Linked DNA regions of Homo sapiens: regions 2, 3 and 4 are each linked to region 1. The links come from fine-mapping of genetic effects on gene expression. A gene starts in region 1. Each other region holds a variant in brackets. All regions are shown on one strand. Distances are between the middles of the regions.

Region 1 (6,215 bases):
GATTACAGGCTCCAGGCCAAACACACAGAGGAGTTACATCTGGCTGGTGCTAGGATGGAAGGTGGGGCAGGTCACCACCTCCCAGGGACTGAGTGCCAAAGCAAGGAGGAAGATTGGAGGTGAGGCTGTATGGAGACAGCCACAGGCTCACAGAGCTTGTGCTGAGCTCTCTAGGGGGAAGCTTGATCTGCCTGGGAAGCTTCCAGCTCCTACCTCCTGCAGAGCCCAGAATGGTGTCCAGGAAATATGTGGCCATTGAGTGGAACCAGCCTTGGCATGGTAGCCTGCAGGAACCCGCAGGCTAGAGACATGGCCACATGAGCAGTGAGGATCTCCCCCGAGATGAGGATCCCCAGAACATAGTGTGGGATGCAGGTCTGGCCTCTGCATACCCTCGGCTTCCTCCATCACTTATTCTCAGACATCTAAACCACTAACATCCAGACTGGGGATCCCAGGAGGGTCTACAGTGTCAAGAGAGGGCAAGTCCACTTCAGGATCAACCTTCCTGTGGCCCCTTACTTTCCTTGGTCCACCTTTCCAGGTCACCCATCCAGACTGTCACCAGGGATCACTGCCCTGGGCACCAACCCAATGCGGGGACAAGTAGAAAAAGAGCTCTGGGGAAAATACCAAAGGGAATAGTCACTCAATTTTACTGTGATGATAAACTCCTGGCAAAGTTCCAGGCCTCTCTCTGTCTGTGTCTGTGAATTATGTGTCTGTGTCTCCATCAACCATAGTGCAGAAGGGGGAGGGTTGTCCTAAGTATCCTATTAACATGTTTGTTTGTTTGTTTGTTTGAGACAGAGTTTCGCTCTTGTTGCCCAGGCTGCAGTGCAATGGCATAATCTCAGCTCACTGCAACCTCCACCTCCTGGGTTCAAGTGATTCTCGTGCCTCAGCCTCCTGAGTAGCTGGGATTACAGGCACACACCACCATGCCTGGCTACTTTTGTATTTTTAGTAGAGACGGGGTTTCACTATGTTGGCCAAGCTGGTCTCGAACTCCTGACCTCAGGTGATCCACCTGCCTCAGCTTCCCAAAGTGCTGGGATTATAGGCGTGAGCCACCATGCCCAGCCAGAACACAGGACTTTCAAAACTTAAACCTGGGGCTGGGCACGGTGGCTCACACCTGTAATCCCAGCACTTTGGGAGGCCGAGGCAGGCGGATCACCTGTCAGGAGTTCAAGACCAGCCTGGGCAACATGGTGAAACCCCATCTTTACTAAAAATAAAATAAAATAAAATACAAAAATGAGTCGGGCGTGGTGGCGCACTGTAGTCCCAGCTACTGGGGAGGCTGAGGCACGAGAATCACTTGAACCCCGGATGGCGGGGACTGCAGTAAGCGATCACGCCACTGCACTCAAGCCTGGCAGACCTAGCGAGACTCTGTCTCAAAAAAAAAGAAAACAAGGCTGGGCGTGGTGGCTCACGCCTGTAATCCCAACACTTTGGGAGGCCAAGGCGGGTGGATCGCCAGGTCAGGAGATTGAGAACATCCTGGCCAACATGGTGAAACCCTGTCTCCACCAAAAATACAAAAATTAGCCAGATGTGGTGCCAGGTGCTTGTAGTCCCAGCTACTCAGGAGGCTGAGGCAGGAGAATCACTTGAACCTGAGAGGCGGAGGATGCAGTGAGCTGAGATTGCGCCACTGCACTCCAGCTTGGGCGACAGAGTGAGACTCTGTCTCAAAAAAAAAAAAAAAAAAAAAAAAAAAAAAACCAAGGGCCGGGCGCGGTGGCTCACGCCTGTAATCCCAGCAATTTGGGAGGCCGAGGCAGGCGGATCATGAGGTCAGGAGATCGAGACCATCCTGGCTAACACGGTGAAACCCTGTCTCTACTAAAAATACAAAAAAATTAGCTGGGCGTGGTGGCGGGCGCCTGTAGTCCCAGCTACTTGGGAGGCTGAGGCAGGAGAATGGCGTGAACCCGGGAGGCGGAGCTTGCAGTGAGCCAAGATTGTGCCACTGCACTCCAGCCTGGGCAACAGAGCAAGACTCCATCTCAAAAAACAAACAAACAAACAACAACAACAAAATAAAACAAGGAAAAAAACACTAAAACCTTGGATGTCCTGGGCAACCCCGGTCAAGATGATCACTCTAGATAGAGTTTTTAAAAATTAGTTTTCAGCCTGGCCAAGATGGTGAAACCCTGTCTCTACTAAGGATACAAAAAATTAGCTGGGCTTCGTAGCAGGCACCTGTAATCCCAGCTACTTGGGAGGCTGAGGCAGGAGAATCACTTGAACCCGGGAGGCAGAGGTTGCAGTGAGCCGAGATGTCACCACAGCACTCCAGTCTGGGCAACAGGGCGAGACTCCATCTCAAAAAAAAAAAATTAGTTTTGCCACCGGGCACGGTGGCTCATGCCTGTAATCCCAGCACTTTGGGAGGCCGAGGTAGGTGGATCACCTGAGGTCAGGAGTTCGAGACCAGCCTGGCCAACGTGGTGAAACCCTGTCTCTACTAAAAATACAAAAATTAGCCAGGCATGGTGGGGTACGCTTGTAATCCCAGCTACTGGGGAAGCTGAGGTGGGAGAATTGCGTGAACCCGGGAGACAGAGGTTGCAGTGAGCCGAGATGGCACCACTGCACTCCAGCCTGGCCAACAAGGGCTAAATTCTATCCCCCCCCCCTCAAAAAAAACAATAACGATTTTGGGAGTATTAGAGCAGAAAACGTTTGAAAACATGAACAGCTCTCACATCAACACAAGACATGAAACTCTGTTGGCAAGAGAGGCCTCTTTGGGGAGAGTGCTCACTCCTCTCCCACCCACTCTCTACCACCTTCAACCTCCTGTCTGGGGCACAGTAACAAGGGGTGTAAGGGGTGTACAGTGCCTAGCAGGGGCCTGGCACTTAGGCTTCAGTAGGTGCCAGTCCACAGTCTCCTGAGGCCCATGTTGGTTGGTGTCCACCTGGTGCTTATTGACCACTTGGGCTCCAGATTTTCCTCACGTCACCTCCCTCCCCAGGGTAGCAGATAAAGGCCCCATAGTTCCAAGGAGGCAGAACTTTTACATTCCTAAAAGCATTCTCAGGCCCCCATAACCCCTCATCCCACCTTCAGCTCGCTCACCTTCACCTATCAAATTCGTTTGACATCTGGCCTCCAGCAACTAGCTAGGCTGAGTTCTCCATGAAGGGGACGTGGCTGCTGGTCAAAAGGGAAAGCCCATGTCTAAAAATTAATTAACGTGGTTTAGGGGCCTCACATTCCCAACCCCCAAATACAGCCATTGTGAGATGTGAGATTCAAAAAATCGAAGAGTGAAGCGGTGATGAGAGTCCATCTGGTCGCTCTTCGGATGCGGCGCTAGCAGGCAGTTGCATGAAAGCAGATCCCAGATCACGTTGCACTGGCACACAGTAGGTACCCACACATATTTGATAAATAAACACTCTCTCCCTAGCATTACTATAGATAGCTGGCAGCTTGGCCTGGCATCCCGGAGGGGTCTGGATCTCAGGGACTAGATAAGGCCAGCACACTGAAGAGTTGCAGAAAATGCAGGCGGTCAGGCGCAGGTCTGCTGCGGGAGCACCTGCCGTGTCCGACAGCTGCACTGGAAGAGGGGCGTGTGTCTCCCAGCCGGGCGGAACCGAGACCGCTTCGTCCCCGGCGGGGAACTTCATTTCCCACAAGCCTGTGCGCGAGACTCCATTTCCCACAAGCCCTCCTTCACTTCCGGCTCGGCCGAGGCACTGCGGACGGCTTCCGGGTTTGGGCCTGGCTCTGTGACTGAGGCGGCGGCGGTGGCGGCCAAGCGGGATACGGGCGGCGGGAGCTGGGGAACAGGCATGGACGTTTCCGGGCAAGAGACCGACTGGCGGAGCACCGCCTTCCGGCAGAAGCTGGTCAGTCAAATGTGAGTAGTGGTCGGGGCAGGGGGCTGGATTGTGGGACCTTCCTCCTTAGCGTGGCGGGCGAGGCCAGGGCCGGACCCGTGAGAAACCTACGGCGCCGGGAGACAGAAGGCGCCGGGGACTTGCGTGGGTCCCAGGGCTCGGGCCCCCCCGTCTGTCCCCTCCGTTCCCGACATGGACTGCTCGTTTGCTTTCCTGGGGCCGAGCTCTGCAAACCAACGAGCCCTGGCTTATGAATCATCGTCTTGAGCTTTCTCATTCGTCATTTGTGTGCTTTGGGTGCAGACTTTCCCCCGCTTTTTGAACCACACTGAATAGGGAAAGGGAGAGAAGCAGCCGGCTGTAGTGGGTTTAGCAGGGCTGGGTGCTTCATGGTTTCTCTTCCAGAAAAGCGCATCAACGGTGAAAGAAAGTGATGGGAGGAGGGTGGATGTAAGATGAGATTGGGAAGGTAGTTGTTTGGGGTGTGGGCGGTGGGACGGAGGATCTGAGGGTGACCCCCCGAAGGAATGTGGACTTTGCCGAAGGATGGCAGGAAGCCGCTGTCAGGAAGCGATCGTCGTTTCTGGAGGAGAGCGTGAAGAGCTGGGGTCAGTGGCCCCGCTCAGAGGAACTCTAGCCCCTCACCACCGACTGCTTGTTTCTGTTAGCAGTTTTTTTCATGCGCGTCCGTGTGAAGAGACCACCAAACAGGCTTTGTGTGAGCAATAAAGCTGTTTATTTCACCTGGGTGCAGGTGGGCTGAGTCCGAAAAGAGAGTCAGCGAAGGGAGATAGGGGTGGGGTCGTTTTATAGGATTTGGGAAGGTAATGGAAAATTAGTCAATTGTTCTCTGGTGGGCAGGGATGGATCTCACAAAGTACATTCTCAAGGGTGGGGAGAATTACAAAGAACCTTCTTAAGGGTGGGGGAGATTACAAAGTACATTGATCAGTTAGGGTGGGGCAGGAACAAATCACAATGGTGGAATGTCATCAGTTACGGCTGTTTTTACTTCTTTTGTGGATCTTCAGTTACTTCAGGCCATCTGGATGTATACGTGCAAGTCACAGGGGATGCGATGGCCTGGCCTGGGCTCAGAGGCCTGACAGTTTTTAACTGAGCTTATTGGCGTGTTGTGCTCGCCACAGATTTGCCTGAGACACAGCCCCTTTCCTGAGGGATGGTAAAGGAACCGTCACAGCGCAGTCTTGTCAGTCTGTAATGTGTATACTGCAGGGGTTTCTTGCGAAGCGGCGGTTAACTTGAGCAGACCAGGGGCAGTCTAGTGAGTAGGTGACGAATAAATTGAGTCCTAGAAAGACAAGTAGGAGTGTGAATAGCCACCATTCCAAGCTGAGGAGTTAGGAAACATGAGCATTTACTGCGTGGAGGGAGGATCTTGTAGGCTGAGAGTTCTGGGGCTCGAGGAGTAAGAGAGCCCAGGAGATGATGGAATGAGGGTGAGCAGGTACTAGCACTTTAGTGGGGGTGTTGTGCCAAGGAATTGAGCCTGTGTTTGGCATGTGGCATTCTTTGGAGTAGTGAAATGCCAGTGTTGGGAATATGCCTAGAGTCCCTGTCCCTGGAGATGGATGCAGGGCAGAGAAGAGAGACCAGTTAAGCTATTAAGAGAGTTTGAACATTTGGAGGGAGTAGGGAACCTGTCCTTTTTCATCCTTATATTCTCACTGCTAGCTCACTGCCTGCCACATTGCTCCGTAAAATGATTGTGGCATGACCTAGTCGGGCGGGAGATTATAAAGGCCTGCATTAGACAGTGGTAGAAACTGAAAGAGGAAGACAGATTCCAGAGGAGGGGGAACGTAGACAATTCTTGATGACTAACTGGATGGAGGGGGGTGGGGTGTGGGGTGAAGCATTGTGGAAGGAAGGAAGCCGGGCTGAATGCTGGGAAACCTTTCAGTACAGTGGAAAGAGTAGGGACTGTAGAGTTAGTAGCTATGGGCTTTGGGAAGAATAGCCTTGGGATATTTCTGGGGATATTGCACAATCAGTGAACAGTGTTTTACTGATAAAATATAGTTATCTGTAGGTGAAAACTTGAGAGATATCCCACTTCAGGGTTCCTGCAAGAAAAGTCCCCAGGGCAAGGGTTCTTCTCTGGGAAAGCCCAGAATTAAGAACTGGAAGGGTGAGTTGTCATCAAAGAAAATGGGGGTAGGGGAAGTGTTAAGAGGGCTGGGAGGGTGATTGAAGAGTTTATGGGTGTTGAGTGACTGGATACTTCATAACTCAGCTTTATTTTGCTTCCGGGAGAATTGAGTTCTTTATTTTTTTCGATATTGCTGTTTGTGTGTTTTTCTGTTGCCGCTCTAACAAATTACC
Region 2 (5,000 bases), 75 kb after region 1:
CCACTGACACCTGGGCACAGGGCCTGGCTTCCTGCTCTCGTGCTCTTGGAAATGAATGGGTGCCCTTCATTTGTTTTTCTTCCCACTAGAAATCTCCCTGCCTCCCATCCTCTGGGCTCTGCTGGCTGCCAGCTGCCAGGGTGAGACCCGTGTTCCACTGCACCCTGGGGAGTGCCTCCAGGGGACACACTGAGTGCCGGAGCCAGGAGCAAGGAACGGTTCCCAGTATGTGGGGGCGGGGGTGGGGATCGCGCAGTGCCGCCAGCCTTGCCTGAGGGTTCCTCTGTGAGATGGAGCTCCCTGGACCAGCCTTTTTGCCCTCCCACCTCCTCTCTGGCCCACTCGGTGTCCACCTGCCTTCAGCTCCAGGCTGCTGTGTGGGTCCCTTTCCCAGAAATGCAGTTCAGGCCATTGTTGCTGGGGTGGTGGTGTTGCTGGGGTGTTGATGTTTAGCGTGCCTGAGCTCCCTTCATCACTAGGATGACCTTGAGCAAGTCACTTCCCTCTGAGCTCCCTGTTCCCAACCTGTGACACACAGGTGACAGGTGGTGTGCACTCAGAAACTCCTTCCCTAGGATGTGTGACATTCTTGTCCTGGGGCCTTTGCTAGCTGTGACACACCGGCGCCCGACCTCTCTGGCTGCCTCCCTAATGCCAGTTGTGTCTTCAGATGAGTCTTTGGGGGGCTGCTTCTCATCCCAGGTGCTGGACTTGGACTGTCCACCACTGACACCTGGGCACAGGGCCTGGCTTTCTGCTCTTGTGCTCTTGGAAATGAAAGGGTGCCCCTCGTTTGTTTTTCTTCCCACTAGAAATCTCCCTGTCTCCCATCCTGTAGGCTCTGCTGGCCACCAGCTGCCCTGACCTGGGGCAGCTGAAGAACTGAGATAGACCTAAGTTCTGGGTGGGTGCTTGGAGGCCCCACGGGCGTGGCTGGTGAGATTGCCGCTTCAGGGCCAAAGTGGGTGCCGGGCTTCCTGAGGTTCGAGAGCAGATGAGAACTCTTGAGTGGCAATGAGGGCTGTGTGGTGGCCTTCTCTGCTTGGCAGCCTCTGCCCAGCCTGCAGCTGCCTTGCTCCTCAGAGAAGCGCTGAGCTTTAGGCCACAGAAAAGAGCTGACCATCTTCTAGAAGGGACAGCTGCTCAGGCACAGGCGCCTCTCTGGAAGAGGCAGTCAGGTAGAGGCAAGGGGAGGGGCCCTGACCTTCAAGCAGGAAGAGAGGTGAGCTTGTGAGACAGCTTTCTGGGGTGCAGGTAGAGAGTAGCAGCAAGTCAAGCATGGGTCAGAAAAGGCAGAGTTGGGCTGAGCATGGGGCCCAGAGTCTTTGCTTCCCACTCCTCGGTGCCGTCTGTGGTTCTCTGTATGGAATTTTCTGGCCTTGGGATTTTGTTGACACCTGGATAAGTCTAGAACATGTGTTCCGGTGTCTGGGACATGCCCTTACTCCTCTTCAGCTAGGGCTCTGTGCACCCCAGCACCGTGAATGCACAGGACTTTGGTGGGAGAAATCTCTGTACTTGTTCAACTCAGCATTTAGCAAATGAAGTCACATCAGTCCCCGTTTCTGACCTTGCTAACCTTTGCGAGAATCACCGCGAGCCATTTTGCTCCATTAGGTAGAGTGATGAGGCCCGGCAGGCCGAGGCTGGGGCTCCTGCACTCTGTCCCTCCTCTCCCAGGCAGAGGTGTCTTGACCACAAAGCAGTGGGAACAGTCCATTCCATCGGTTGATGTCCCACTGGGCCAGTGGCTTTGGATAGGGACCTCTGACCCAGCTGTGCTGGAAGTACCCTGTTGTGGTCACGCTCTGTGCCTTAGCCCCCCACCCCCTGGTCTCCCAGCACACGTGGTTCAGGAACGGCCTGCACCCAGCATCCCTTGCAGCACTGTCAGGCACAGCCCATGGAACAGGCAGGACAGAAAGAGCATTTCGCTCCAGGAGCTTGGTCCACGTGGTGCTGAAAGGGCAGTGCCACCCTGCCCTCTGCTGCCTGGTGGGGTGGTGAGGAGGGCAGCATTCTGTTTGTGGGCTCTGGGCCTGGTCCCCAATTTAAGGAGCTTAGAAAGCAGCTGTCCTATCCCAGTACTCACAGCACTGTGGTGGAAGTGCTTGGGGGGTGGTGTGAGCCGTGGCCCGAGACAGGCGTTCATGGCCAGAGTGCCCCAGGAGAAGCACTGAGTTGGTCTACAGAAATGGATGGTCCAGGGGCCTGGCTCCTAGGCAGACTGTGAGGGGATGCTTGGCATGCAGGGGGTTGACTAGGGTGTGGGAAATGTAGCAGGGCCTTCAGGGTTCCCCCAGTGTGACAAGGCATCCCTCTTTGCTGAGAGTCCCTCTAGGGGAGGCCAGACGCCCAG[G/A]GCTGGCAGGCAGCTGTTCTCCCCATCAAAGCAGCCATCTGTGCTCCACCCCAGGAAGGTGTGGGTGTTTTACATATGCTTATCCCTGATGCCTGGGTGGTGTGGTTTCATCCCTAGAGTTTACGGATGAAGACAGTGGTGTCCCTGGTGCAGACACTGGGGTGATTGATCTTATTTGTGTCGTGGCCAGCAAGGCCTGGGGAGCAGAGCAACAGCCTTGCTTTGCATACACACAGGGCCTCAGAGGACTCAGGTGCACACCTGCATGGCAGAACCAGGCTCTGGGCCCAGGTGTCTGACACTGAGTAGCTCGCCTCTCCCAGGGGCGCTGGTGTGGGCCGATGCAAGTGCCACCATGGGTGTGTGTGTGGCTCCCTGGGCCACCTCACTCCAATTAAGCAGGTCCAGGTGGGACAGCCTGGGACCAGCCCTGCAGCAGCATGTGTTAACCACAACAGATGGCTGTAGCCACCAGGCTTGTCCTTGGTGCAGTCAGCCTGGGGGCTGCGGGGGCTTGTGGAAGCATGTGGGAAGACGGTCCCACTGGTCAGCAGAGCAGGGTCCTCACCGACCCACAGAGGAGCATGTCACAGGACAGGCAGGCGTGTCAGGGAAGGCCAGGCTAGTGCCAGCCAAGGGCATTGCCTCCCAGACTGCCCTTTTCCTCACACTCCCACGACACAGCCCTCAAAGCCTGTGCCCCTGTGGGTCCCTGGCCAAGGAGCAAGGGCTGCCCTGCCTGGGCCCCCCCCGCCAGCCCCTTGGTCACCTCATGCTGTGTGCCAGGCTGGGGGAGTGTGCCTGTGTGTATGTCCAGGTGGCATTTGGATGAAGACACAGGTGTGTGGTGAGGCTGTGCGGGAGGATGGGCCTATGCGTGCGGTGGGCAGGTGGTGTGGAGGCAGGCGGGCGGGCGTGTGGCAGCGCGCCGGCTGAGCCCCTCCACTTCCAGGTCAGCCAGAGCAGCCTCCCCATGCTGTCCTCGCCGTCACCGGGCCAGCAGGTGCAGACCCCGCAGTCGATGCCCCCTCCCCCCCAGCCGTCCCCGCAGCCCGGCCAGCCCAGCTCACAGCCCAACTCCAACGTCAGGTAGGCCTGGCCTGGGGTGCCCCTCCCCACCTGGCCCTCGAGGCTGGCCCTGCCTGGACCCCGGCTCACATGTTTCTCTCACTTGGCTGCAGCTCTGGCCCTGCCCCATCTCCCAGTAGCTTCCTGCCCAGCCCCTCACCGCAGCCCTCCCAGAGCCCAGTGACGGCGCGGACCCCACAGAACTTCAGTGTCCCCTCACCTGGACCTTTAAACACACCTGGTAAGTTGGGCCTGAGGTGCTAAGGTCACTCCTCACCTTTATGAGGCCTCAGCTCATACTGGGTGTGCGAGCTCTGGGGCCCTCAGAGCTCAAGTTCCCCACCCGAGGGTCGAGGGCTGTGGCCTCACCCGCCTGTGTCCTGCAGTGAACCCCAGCTCTGTCATGAGCCCAGCTGGCTCCAGCCAGGCTGAGGAGCAGCAGTACCTGGACAAGCTGAAGCAGCTGTCGAAGTACATCGAGCCCCTGCGCCGCATGATCAACAAGATCGACAAGAACGAAGGTAGGCTGCAGCCAGGGCAGGGGCCTGCACCCTGGGGACACCACCAGGCTTGTGTCTTAGTGTGTACCCTCTTCTGTCCCAGACAGAAAAAAGGACCTGAGTAAGATGAAGAGCCTTCTGGACATTCTGACAGACCCCTCGAAGCGGTGAGCTTTGCCCACAGCCCACGGAGGGTCCACAAGGGCACAGATAGCCCAGCCATGGATGGGCACTTGGTGATGATGTGGGTTTAACAAAGGCACCAGGCAGCTCTTTGGACCCTGGCCAGAGGCCTCCAAGGCTCCACTCTGGTGTGTGCTGGGGCTTCAAGCCCAGGCTTCATCTTGGCCCATGCCCAGCCTTTGCCCTATTCCTGGCTGCTGCTGTGGCCCTCATGCTGGGCCATCACAGCCAGACCTCATCCAGTCAGCAGCCAGGGGCCCAGCTTGCAGTGGCCTGACCATCAGCTGGCCCAGATGGGCCTGAGCCTGACCTGGAGTTCTGCCCCTGACTTGCTGGTGACCATGGGCAGGCGACTGCATCTCAGTTACCCCATTTGTAGCCCACGTGTGTTGTCATGAAAATGAAACAAGGTGGCGCTGGTGAGAAGCAGGTGGAAGGCAGGGCTGCTGGCCACAGGCTGCTGTGAGGATCAGAGCTCGGGCAGTACCTCCAAACTGCATGGGCATTGGCATATACCTCCCTTTCACCTCAACTCAGGCTATCCCCCAACCCCTGTCTAGAAGGGTCTCTCTGTTCTGCTTGTCTGGATAGAATGCCAGTCACTATTGGGTGGTCCTCCAGGTCTTCATGGGTTGATCCTTTGTTAGGGTTATAGGGATGAGTGGGGCAGGGACTGGCCTACATGACAATGAGGCATTCACAGCCTGATCAGGGGCCTGGCCACTGTCCCTTCTCTTGACCCATCACCTCACTCTGCCAACCAGGGACAAGCAGCTCCTGGGGTTGAGGGCTGCCTGCCTTCAACTCTGGGTCTGGGAACAGCTGGTCAACTGGTAGGAGCTCCTGCAGAGGTTTCTGATGGCTGAGGCCCAGTGGCAGTAGTTGGGATC
Region 3 (5,000 bases), 29 kb after region 1:
TCAGGAGACAGAGACTGAGGAGTAGCCATTCGGGTCTGGCTGCTCAGGAAGGCATGCTGGGGATGGCAGCAGAGCCCAGCTCAGGGAGATCAGAAGGGGGCTTTGGGAGCAGCCAGTGCTGTTCTGAAGGTGGGCCTGGGTCCTGCCTGCAGCCTCCCGCAGCGGGTGTGTTAGGTCTAAGGGAGGAAGGAAGGGGACTTGACCTCAGCAGGAGTGTGAAATGGGTACCCTCCTGGAGTCAATGTCCAGGCAGGGGATGCCTCTGAAAAGCGCCAGGCCAGCTGGAGAGGAAAGGGCAGGCATCTGCAGGGAAGTGTGGGGGATTAGCTGCAGAGTTCCTGGGTTCTTTTTCGCTTTGTCTCTATTTTGTGACACTTGATCTTCAAACTAGAAACAGGAGCAAAGACATTTTCAAAAATACAGTTGTCAGAACTGCAAAACCACACAGGGTCTGTTACTGGCCACCAAACCTGCTGGGCCTCCCTGGGTGGATGCTGTGGGAGAGATGTGGGAGTGACATGGCACAGTGCTGCTGTTCTGAGCGGTAGCCTTGCTGGAGGAGCGCCTTGCCGGAGGAGCACCTTGCTCCTTGGCCCCACTCTGACCCTCCGAAGCTCATGTGGAACTGGACATTTACCCCAACTCGGTTTCCTGGTGTTGGCCTGTCAAGACTTGCCTGTTTCTGGCCTCCAGCTTGGTCCATGCTCCTCAGGCTCTGAGTAGCTGACGGTGCCCACAGTGTCCATGTCATCTGTGACATTACCCAGGACAGGACAGGGCCCGTCTGCCAGTACATCCCCTGGTGTATGGTGCCACCTTGCCTTCAGCTCACCAAGCATATTTCTTCAACCTGGTCATCCCACCACCTCAGAGCTATTGCACTAAGCTGTGTTTCTAGATCTTGTCTCTCTGACTGTGCCAGGTGTCTCTGCTGCACCAAGACAGTGTCTGTCTGGGGCCTGCCAGTCTGCTGACACTCTCAAAAACGGCCAGTAGCAGCTCAAAAGGACTGCTTTTGTATCAAAGCCTGGCTTTGCTCTCTGATCGCTGCTGGTGGGCACAGAGCCCATCTGTGTAACTGGTTGTCACTCCCCAGACTCTTCTGCACCCTTCTTCCTCTCTGACTCCTGGCCACATCTGCCACCCACAGCCTCCCCACTCCTTACACAGCCAGCCTCCAGGCCGTCCTGCTTGGCCTGCAAATGCTCCCCTGCTGTTTCTACTGCTCTTCCCTGAGTCTCCCTATTGGTCCCAGTGCTTTGGGAGGCCAAGGTGGAGGATCACTTAAGGCCAGGAGTTTGAGACCAGCCTGGGCAACAAAGCAAGACCCTGTCTCTACAAAAAAAGTAAAAAATAAAAAAATTAGCCAGGCGTGGTGGCGCATGCCTGTAGTCCCAGCTATTTGGGAGGCTGAGGTGAGAGGATACTTGAGCCCAGGAGTTTGAAGCTGCAGTGAGCTGTGTTTGCCCCACTGCGCTGCACCTGTGAGAGAGTGAGACATTGTCTCAAAAAACAAAAGAAGAAAAAGAAAAAAGGAAGGTGGGAAGAACAAGTATGCCTTTGAAGGGCATACCTGCCTTGAGGGGCACAGATGAGGCAACCTTCAGAAAACAGGCCTGTGCAGCCACTTCTATCAGAAATGCTCACTGACTTCTTGGGGCCTAGCAGCTATCGTCTCAGCCTCTGGGTGTGGAGACCCTGCCCCATGCTAACCTGAGAGCATGAGTACAGGGTCCTCCCAGCCCACCCATGCCTCGCTTCCCCAGGACTCTGACCCAGTGCCGCGCGTGAGTTGGTTGTCATTATCCTCCTGGATTGTTAACTCTCTCATCTTTTGTGGCCCTGGTGACCTTTCTTACTTGTCTGTTCCACACCTGGATGCCTTGTGAGCAGAAACCCCTTGCTGCCTCCTCGCCTCCCTTCAGGCTTCAGGAAGCAGACAGGGAGGTAGGAACTCCAAGAGTGCAGGAGTCTCATTCTGTCGCCCAGGCTGGAGTGCAGTAGTGCCATCTTGGCTCACTGCAACCTCTGCCTCCAGGGTTCAAGCGATTCTCCTGCCTCAGCCTCCCGAGTAGCTGGGACCACAGGTGCCTGCCACCACACCCGACTAATTTTTGTATTTTTAGTGGAGACAGGGTTTCACCACGTTAGCCAGGCTGGTCTCAAACTCCTGACCTCAGGTGATCCACCTGCCTCGGCCTCCCAAAGTGCTGGGATTACAGACCTGAGCCATCGTGCCCAGCCCAAGAGTGCTTTTTGAATCTAGCAGGGTGGTAGGTCAATGTCATTTTGTTTTTCTTTTTACATTAAGACAGATGTATGCACCTCTCAGCATTAAACCTCCTTTCTGTGATGTCTTTAAGAATCACAGTCATATTGCTGTAGCCCCGTCTGTACATTCCTTCAGTTTCCTGAGGTTGGCTGGTTGCTGTTTGGAGTGGTCAGAATGCTTTCTAGCACGAGCTGGACTGGGCCTATTCAATTCACTCAGAGGCAAGGCCCCAGAGCCCTGACATGTTTGCTTGTTTCTTTTTTCTTTTGCTTTCTTTCTTTTTTTTTTTTTTGAGACGGAGTCTCGCACTGTTGCCCAGGCTGAAGTGCAGTGGCGCAATCTCCGCTCACTGCCAGCTCCGCCTCCCGGGTTCATGCCATTCTCCTGCCTCAGCCTCCCGAGTAGCTGGGACTACAGGCGCCTGCCACCATGCCCAGCTAATTTTTTGTATTTT[T/A]AGTAGAGACAGGGTTTCACTGTGTTAGCCAGGATGGTCGTGCTCGCCTGACCTCGTGATCTGCCCGCCTTGGCCTCCCAAAGTGCTGGGACTACAGGCGTGAGCCACCGTGCTCAGCCTGCTTCTTTCTTTCTTTTTTTTTTTTTTTTTTTTTTTGAGATGGAGTTTCGCTCTGTCACCCAGGCTGGAGTGCAGTGGCGCAATCTCGGCTCACTGCAACCTCCACCTCCCGGTTCAAGCGATTCTCCTGCCTCAGCCTCCTTTGTAGCTGAGATTACAGGCATGCGCAACCACACCCTGCTAATTTTGTATTTTTAGTAGAGACAGGGTTTCACCATGTTGGTCAGGTTGGTCTTGAACTCCTGACCTCAGATGATCCACCCGCCTCGGCCTCCCAAAGTGTTGGGATTACAGGCGTGTGGCACTGCACCTGGCCACTTGTTTCTTTATCAGCAAGCCCAGGGTGGGAGGCCAGGCAAGGAAGAGACCCATCCCACTGGCAAGAAGGCAGGCAGTGAGCACACCAGAGCAGTCCACCCCTGGGAGCCACAGGCCAGGCCTTTCTAACAGATTCACACTTGTTTTTGTCTTTCTGTGTGTGAGTGTGGGAGGTGGGGGTGGGGGTGGGTGGGGCAGCATGTGCTGCATTCGAGGGGTCTCCACCTTAACTGATGTACATGGCTCTTTATCCCCGTGGAGCAGCAGTGTGATGAAAAACTCTTCATAGGATTCTATCTCTTAGTACAAAATTGTTGGTAAATGGGTTTTTAAAGATATTTTTCACATTTATGTGGTCTTTCTCTTCTTGTCTCTAGCTAGAAGTGAAGTTGGAGCTTGTCTCTTTGATCCCACATATAGGACCTGCATTGTCCCACATAGGGACAGACCCTTGCCTTGGGAGGGACTGAGAGATGACTTCATGTGGCCCCTTCATTTTATAGGAGTAATCGAGTCTAGAACCAGGGTGCTACCATCTGGCAGAGTTCATGGGGAACGCAGGCCACTCAGAGAGCAGGAAATAGAGGCCAGCTGGCCACCCAGTAGTCTAATGCGTACTTCCTTGATCCTGAACTGGTTGTGAGCCATCCCTAGGGGCAACCCCTCCCCCGCCCCGTCCCTTCATGCCAGGGCTCTCTCTTTGCTTCATGGCGACCACCTTTCCTGTCCCTTTTTTCTGATCACCCTGCTCAGTGGCCTGTCATTGCTCTCTGTTGAGTGCCCCTTCCCATATGCCTCTCCTGGACCTCAGCCAGGCTGGTGTGCTGGCGATAGCACCTTGTCACCAGGGGCAGCTGCTATGCAGGGCCTGTTGGCCAGGGCCCTGCAGCGGTGGAGTCACTGGTGTGTGCAAACGTCTCTTCTCCTTTTGTGTTTCAGCGAGGATGCCATGAGGAAAGCTGGTGTGGCACACAGTAAATCCAGCAAGGATATGGAGAGCCATGTTTTCCTGAAGGCCAAGACCCGGGTAAGGCCCTAGTAAGTGGAGCCACTCTGGCAGAGAGACTTGGAGAGGAGAGCATCACAGACTCTGGAACCCCTCTGTTGGGTGTCCTAGGGTGTAGGGGTGGGGTGGTTGCTCATCGATTGATCACAGGCACAGTTGGTTTTGCCTGCAGCAGTCTGGGTCCTCCTGTGTGTCCATGGTACAGGGAGGGCACTTGGGTTGCAGGCCCAGCCTCTGGCCCCAGACCTCACTGCCGTCACCTTCCATCTGTGGTCAGCCCCTGTGAATCCTACAGGAAGCTTGCTCAGGCCCCTAGCTGGTCCTGTGGAAGGGATCAATGCCGTGAGCAAGAACCTGGTTTGTCCTCAGCCCCTCCTAGGGGTCCTTACCTAAGCCCTACAGGGCCCTGAGGCATGGGCCCAGAAGCATTCCTGTCCCCTTTTGCTAAGTGAAGAAGGTGATGCTTATCTAGAACTCGCCACAGGTGGAGTGGAGAAGAAGGATTTCCACTATATGTGGGCTTTCTCCCTGGGTGGGGCACCACACTGAGGGCTTTATGTGACCACCTCCTTTAATCTGTGTGTGCTCCCTGGGACAGAACCGTTTTACTAGAAATGAACAAAACACATATTCACTTGTGTGCACGTGTGTGTGCAAGGCAGAGCTGCAAGAGCACAGGGACTGAGGTGGGGTAGAGTGGGCTCTGTACTATGGACACGTGTGACTGAAGTGGGATAGAGTGGGCTCTGTATTATGGATACGTGTCACTGAGGTGGGGTAGAGTGGGCTCTGTACTACGGATACGTTTGATAAGCTTTTTCTTTTTCTTT
Region 4 (5,000 bases), 51 kb after region 1:
TCTCTGGGCGGGATGGGTAGCCTTGGTGCCATGGGACAGCCAATGTCTCTCTCAGGGCAGCCGCCTCCTGGGACCTCGGGGATGGCCCCTCACAGCATGGCTGTCGTGTCTACGGCAACTCCACAGAGTGAGTACCACACTTCTTGGAGGATTTGCCGCTTTCCTTGCAAACGACAACACATTTTATTCCTGTGCTTATGATGGTATCAAGAAAAGCATGGAGAAGCTCCAAATCGCTCTGGTTTTTTTGTTTTTTAAATCTTTGTTGTATGTGGAGAGAAAAGGCTTCCAATTTTCGTTGAGCTCCCAGAAGGGTTAAGTGATGCTGGGCCCTCCTCCTCCTCCTAGCCCTGGGCAGGAGGGTGGGGATGGCCTGAGACTCCATCCAAAGGTTTGTGTTTTGTGGCTGAAATAGATACAGTGTGTTTCAGAGGGTTCTCAGCTACAAGGCAGGGCTGAGTGCCAGCAACCACAACTCCACTGTCTGCCCGAGCTCTGGGCACCATCTCTTCTAGTGCTGCCCTTGCCCCTTGGTCACCATGGGTGTGGCTTGCAGCCATATTATCTTCTGGCTTCCTTTCTGTGAAGGAGACTCTGTGTCCTCTCCACACGGCTGCTGTGGTGGGAAACTGGGCTGTGATCAGGTGTTATAGGTGAACCAAAGCTGCTCTAAAGGGGAGGCAAAGAACCTCCCTCTTCTTTCCAGGACCTGTCTTTTGAGACGGGGTCTCGCTCTGTGGGCCACATTGGAGTGCAGTGGCACAATCACGGCTCACTGCAGCCTGGACATCCTGGGCTCAGGTGATCCTCACACCACAGCCTCCAAAGTAGCTGGGACTATAGGCTCACAGCACCGCGCCCGGCTAATATTTTGTATTTTTTGTAGAGATGGGACTTCACCATGTTGCCCAGGCTTATCTTGAACTCCTGGGCTCAAGCGATCTGCTCACCTCGGCCTCCCAAAGTGTTGGGATTACAGGCGTGAGCCAACGCGCCTGCCCTTAGGACCTATCTTGATGTATCCTTGAGTCCCATCAACATTTCTTAGAGTGTGCTGTGCCCACTGCAAAGTGCTTTAGTGTTTTTTTCCCCTTTCATGTAACTTTTTATTTTTAAAATAGGAGTCACAGGAAGTTGTGGAATAGCATAGAGAGTTCCCACATGCCCTTTACCCAGCTCTCCCCAATAATAGTATCTTACATAGAACATTGTCAAAACCAAGAAATTAATGTTGAGGCAGTGTAATCACCTCAGTTAGAGACTTAGCTTGGACTTCATCAGTTTTTTTTTTTTTTTTGAGACAGAGTTTCACTCTTGTTGCCCAGGCTGGAGTGCAGTGGTGTGATCTCAGCTCACTGCAACTTCTGCCTTCCGAGTTCAAGCAGTTCTCTTGCCTCAGCCTCCGACTACCTGGGACTACAGGCGCCTGCCACCATGCCCAGCTAATTTTATATTTTTAGTGGAGATGGGGTTTCACCATGTTGGCCAGGCTGGTCTCAAACTCCTGACCTCAAGTGATCTTCTCTCCTGAGCCTCCCAAAGTGCTGGGATTACAGACGTGAGCCATCACGCCCAGCCGACTTCATCAGTTTTTTTACACTCATTCTTGGGCTACATATATGGGTATGTGTAGGTCTGTGAGATTTTACCACGTGTCAAATCAAGTAGCCATCACCACAATTGGCATGCGGAGCCGTTCCATTACCACCAACCAACTCTCTTGTGTTACCTCTCAGAGATCGCGCCCTCCCTCCAGCCTTAAGCAGTGACAATTGCTGATCTGTTGTGTGTCTCTGTAGTTCTGTCCCTTTGTGAATGTTGTATAAATGGAATCATACCATATGTGACTTTTTGAGATTGGCTTTTTAAATTCAATCTGATACCCTTGAGACCCAGCCAGGTTTTATCAGTAATTCATTCCTTTTCATCACTAAGTAGTGTTCCATGGAACGGATTTTCCACAGTTTGCTTATTCATTCACCCATGAAGGACATTTGGGTTGTTTCCTGCTTTTGCTTACTATTATGCAAACAAAGCTGCTGTGGATATCTGTGTACAGGCTTCAGTGCTTCAATATATTTTTGTCACACATCCCTCATGATAACCCTATGAAGAGGGCAGCATCGCCCCCTCTGCTTTGTCAGTGTAGCAGCTGCTAAGGAGAACTGGAGTCACACCCCAGGCCAAGAGCTGGGATCGAAGCTGCTGCCTGACCCCATCCTCACACTCCTACCCTATCCTGTGTCAGGTTTCCTCTTCTTTGGGGCCATAGGCATCCTCATTTCTACCCACTCCTGCTCTGGAATCTTCCTCCATCCCAAGCCACCTTCCCTTCTCATACCTTAATTCTCCTCTTACTTCCTGTTGTCTAACTCTCAGCACGTGCTGGTTTCCTCATCCTAGAACAATCTGCCTGGTTCTTCGTCCCAAGCTCTCATTACCTCACT[A/C]TTTTTAGCACATCAGATAAGTACACCAGCTGGGTTTAGGGAGGACCCACAGAAGTGCCGGCTCAAGTTCCTTGTCACGTTCTACTCTTGTGTACTTGGTGCATTTTTTTTTTAATCATGAGCTTATACTTGATAATAAATTGTTTTTAAATGTATGAGTTTAGAATGCTCACATGAGTTGCCTTGTCATCCCACTTCAGAGACTTTGTCTTAAACCAGTTCTTTGTCAGAAGTTCAGTGGTGAAGCTTGATATCCTGCCCACGCCCTCCCCAGTCTGGCCTTGGCCCCCACATCCTGTTTTTAGCTTCCAAGGGGACTGGTCTTCTGTGTGGCACTAGTTGAAAGTTACAGTGGGGGCTGGGCACGGTGGCTCACGCCTGTAATCCCAGCACTTTGGGAGGCTGAGGCGGGCGGATCACGAGGTCAGGAGATCGAGACCATCCTGGCTAACACGGTGAGACCCCGTCTCTACTAAAAATACAAAAAATTAGCCGGGCGTAGTGGTGGGTGCCTGTAGTCCCAGCTACTCGGGAGACTAAGGCAGGAGAATGGCATGAACCTGGGAGGCGGAGCTTGCAGGGGGCGAGATCGTGCCACTGCACTCCAGCCTGGGCAACAGAGCGAGACTCTGTCTCAAAAGAAAAAAGAAAAAGTTACAGTGGATTCTCTACTTCAGGATCTTGTTACCACCTTTGTCAGAGGCCAACTCTCCCTGCCCTTCACCACTTGCCTCCCTGGTCTCCCTGAAACTAGTAGTGTTGTCTGATGGGCATTTGATACCCCTTCCTGACACCTTTCCCAAAGACTACTGCATGATTAAGGCCCTTTCAGATCTTCATCTAGTGCCACCAAGAGGACAGAGCCTGGGTCAGAGGTTTTGCCAGGGACTCTCAAAGGGTAGGCCAGGGGACATTGTGATAGTTTTCAGGTGACCCAGGTTAGTCGGAAAAGGCTGAAACTGCTGGTTGTTCCTATGGCTGGGGCTGCAGTACAGAGTTGGAAGCAAAGCTTTTCACTCTGCGCATTTTTGTTTCTCATGAGTTTTATATGACGTGCATGTAAAGCCGACTTTAAAAATAATTTCTACTGCCAGTTGTGTGATGGACTGGGGTGCTGAGGACATGTTCTCCTCCTGGATAACTAGGTTCTGGTTAGGATGCACTTTGGAATGCTGGCCTGCAGCAGTTGGGGAGGCTTTGTCCTCCTGAGCCTCAGCTGCTGCAAGGTGGGGGAAGAAAGCTTGGGATTCCTGTAGTCAGCCAGGATTTGTGCTGGGTCCTGTGTCACCCCCCATACCCCCCAGAAGCAGGTGCAGATTGGAGCAGGTGCGGATTGGAGGAACATGTCCCCAGTGTAAGACCTGTGACAGTTGCACATTAAGGTCAAGCAATCAGCATACAAAGATCACCAGCCTTGAAGGGAAGGAGAGACACCATGAAGGTGAACAGAAAAAATAGACACATGTAGGCATGCCCAGTGACCACACACACAGGAACTGTTAGTTATGGGCCATGGGGTATATAAAGAAATAAAGTGGAGAGCCGGGCACAGTGGCTCACGACTACACTCCTGGCTACTCGGGAGGCTAAGGCAGGGGGATTGCTTGAGGCCAGGAGTTTGAGGCTATGGTGAACTATCATTGCACCACTGCACTCCAGCCTGGGGGATAGAACGAGACACCATCTCTGAAAAAATAGAAAACAAAAAGGAAAAGAAAGAGCAGAAATTCAAATGAAAAAGCATCATCAGGAGCAATGAAGCAGATTTGAAACGGAACCAAATGAAAGCTGTAGAAATGAGCAATATAATTATTGAACGAAGAAAGTGGATGAATGAACAGCGCATTAGATACAGCTGAAGAAAGAATTTGTGTAATAGAAGCTACATTTGAAGAAATTATCTAGAATGTAGCACAGAGAAGAGCACATGGAAAATGTGAAAGCAAGGGTAAGAAATGAGGATAAGATCAGAAATTCTAATTGGCATCCAAGCAAAGCCCCGGAAGGATCAAATGGAGAGAATGGAAGAAAACAATATGTGAGGGGATAACTACTGAGAAAAGCCCATCTGGCCCCAACCAAGTTAGCCATCTCATCTGCTGTGAGACTGCAGAGCACCAAAGGCCAGAGGAATGTCTTAGAAATAGGCAGTTCCTGCAAAGGAGCAATGAGTACACTCAGCAGTAGAGTCAGAAAGGTAATAGAATATTGTTAAAGCATTGAGAATAGAGCTGCCAGTCACATTTGTATGCCAGCAAGACTCAAGGATGTGGAAAGCAAGCCATTTTTAGATAAACCTAGCCTTAGAGACCATCACTAAAAGATTTTCTAAAGGATATATCTTTTTTTATCCTTTTTCCAATAAGCCTTTTGCACTCTTAGATATATTCTTTTGTTTATCCTTTCCTCTTCCCTCTCAGGTGATACAAGGTAAAATGGGAAAAGAAACGTTGAGCATAGGTGATAGTAAATGTGTATAAATCTAAAGCAGTGATTCTCACCCAGGGTGACATTCCACCACAGGGGATATTTGACAATGTCTGGAGACATTTT

Direction of the effects. Positions count from the first base shown, and alleles are read on the strand shown. Sizes are in standard deviations (SD) of each study's normalised expression.
For the expression in tibial nerve of the gene that starts at base 3,753 in region 1, allele G in region 2 goes with a higher level than allele A (moderate effect, 0.57 SD a copy in GTEx).
For the expression in putamen of the gene that starts at base 3,753 in region 1, A is the low allele of the variant in region 3 and T is the other (small effect, 0.35 SD a copy in GTEx).
With allele C in place of A in region 4, the expression in skeletal muscle of the gene that starts at base 3,753 in region 1 is lower (small effect, 0.33 SD a copy in GTEx).

Evidence for each region. PIP is the estimated chance that this variant, and not a neighbour inherited with it, causes the effect.
Region 2: its variant is the best candidate, but not a certain one, in a credible set for the expression of MED15 in tibial nerve (GTEx, PIP 0.64).
Region 3: its variant is the best candidate, but not a certain one, in a credible set for the expression of MED15 in putamen (GTEx, PIP 0.87).
Region 4: its variant is the best candidate, but not a certain one, in a credible set for the expression of MED15 in skeletal muscle (GTEx, PIP 0.57).

The regions. Positions count from the first base shown.
Region 1 is chr22:20,503,858-20,510,072 of GRCh38, forward strand. MED15 (mediator complex subunit 15) reads left to right here and starts at 3,753. Exons shown (of 18, transcript NM_001003891.3): 1 at 3,753-3,889. The coding sequence starts at 3,822. RefSeq lists enhancers at 1,357-1,856, 3,736-3,845.
Region 2 is chr22:20,579,300-20,584,299 of GRCh38, forward strand. MED15 (mediator complex subunit 15) reads left to right here. Exons shown (of 18, transcript NM_001003891.3): 10 at 3,312-3,448; 11 at 3,541-3,668; 12 at 3,814-3,948; 13 at 4,031-4,094. Among named protein-coding and RNA genes, the nearest start is that of MED15, 74 kb to the left of the region's middle. The variant G/A (reference allele first, on the strand shown) is at 2,360.
Region 3 is chr22:20,533,014-20,538,013 of GRCh38, forward strand. It overlaps MED15 (mediator complex subunit 15), which reads left to right. Exons shown (of 18, transcript NM_001003891.3): 2 at 4,104-4,191. Among named protein-coding and RNA genes, the nearest start is that of MED15, 28 kb to the left of the region's middle. RefSeq lists an enhancer at 4,543-4,712. The variant T/A (reference allele first, on the strand shown) is at 2,727.
Region 4 is chr22:20,555,022-20,560,021 of GRCh38, forward strand. MED15 (mediator complex subunit 15) reads left to right here. Exons shown (of 18, transcript NM_001003891.3): 5 at 1-127. Among named protein-coding and RNA genes, the nearest start is that of MED15, 50 kb to the left of the region's middle. The variant A/C (reference allele first, on the strand shown) is at 2,448.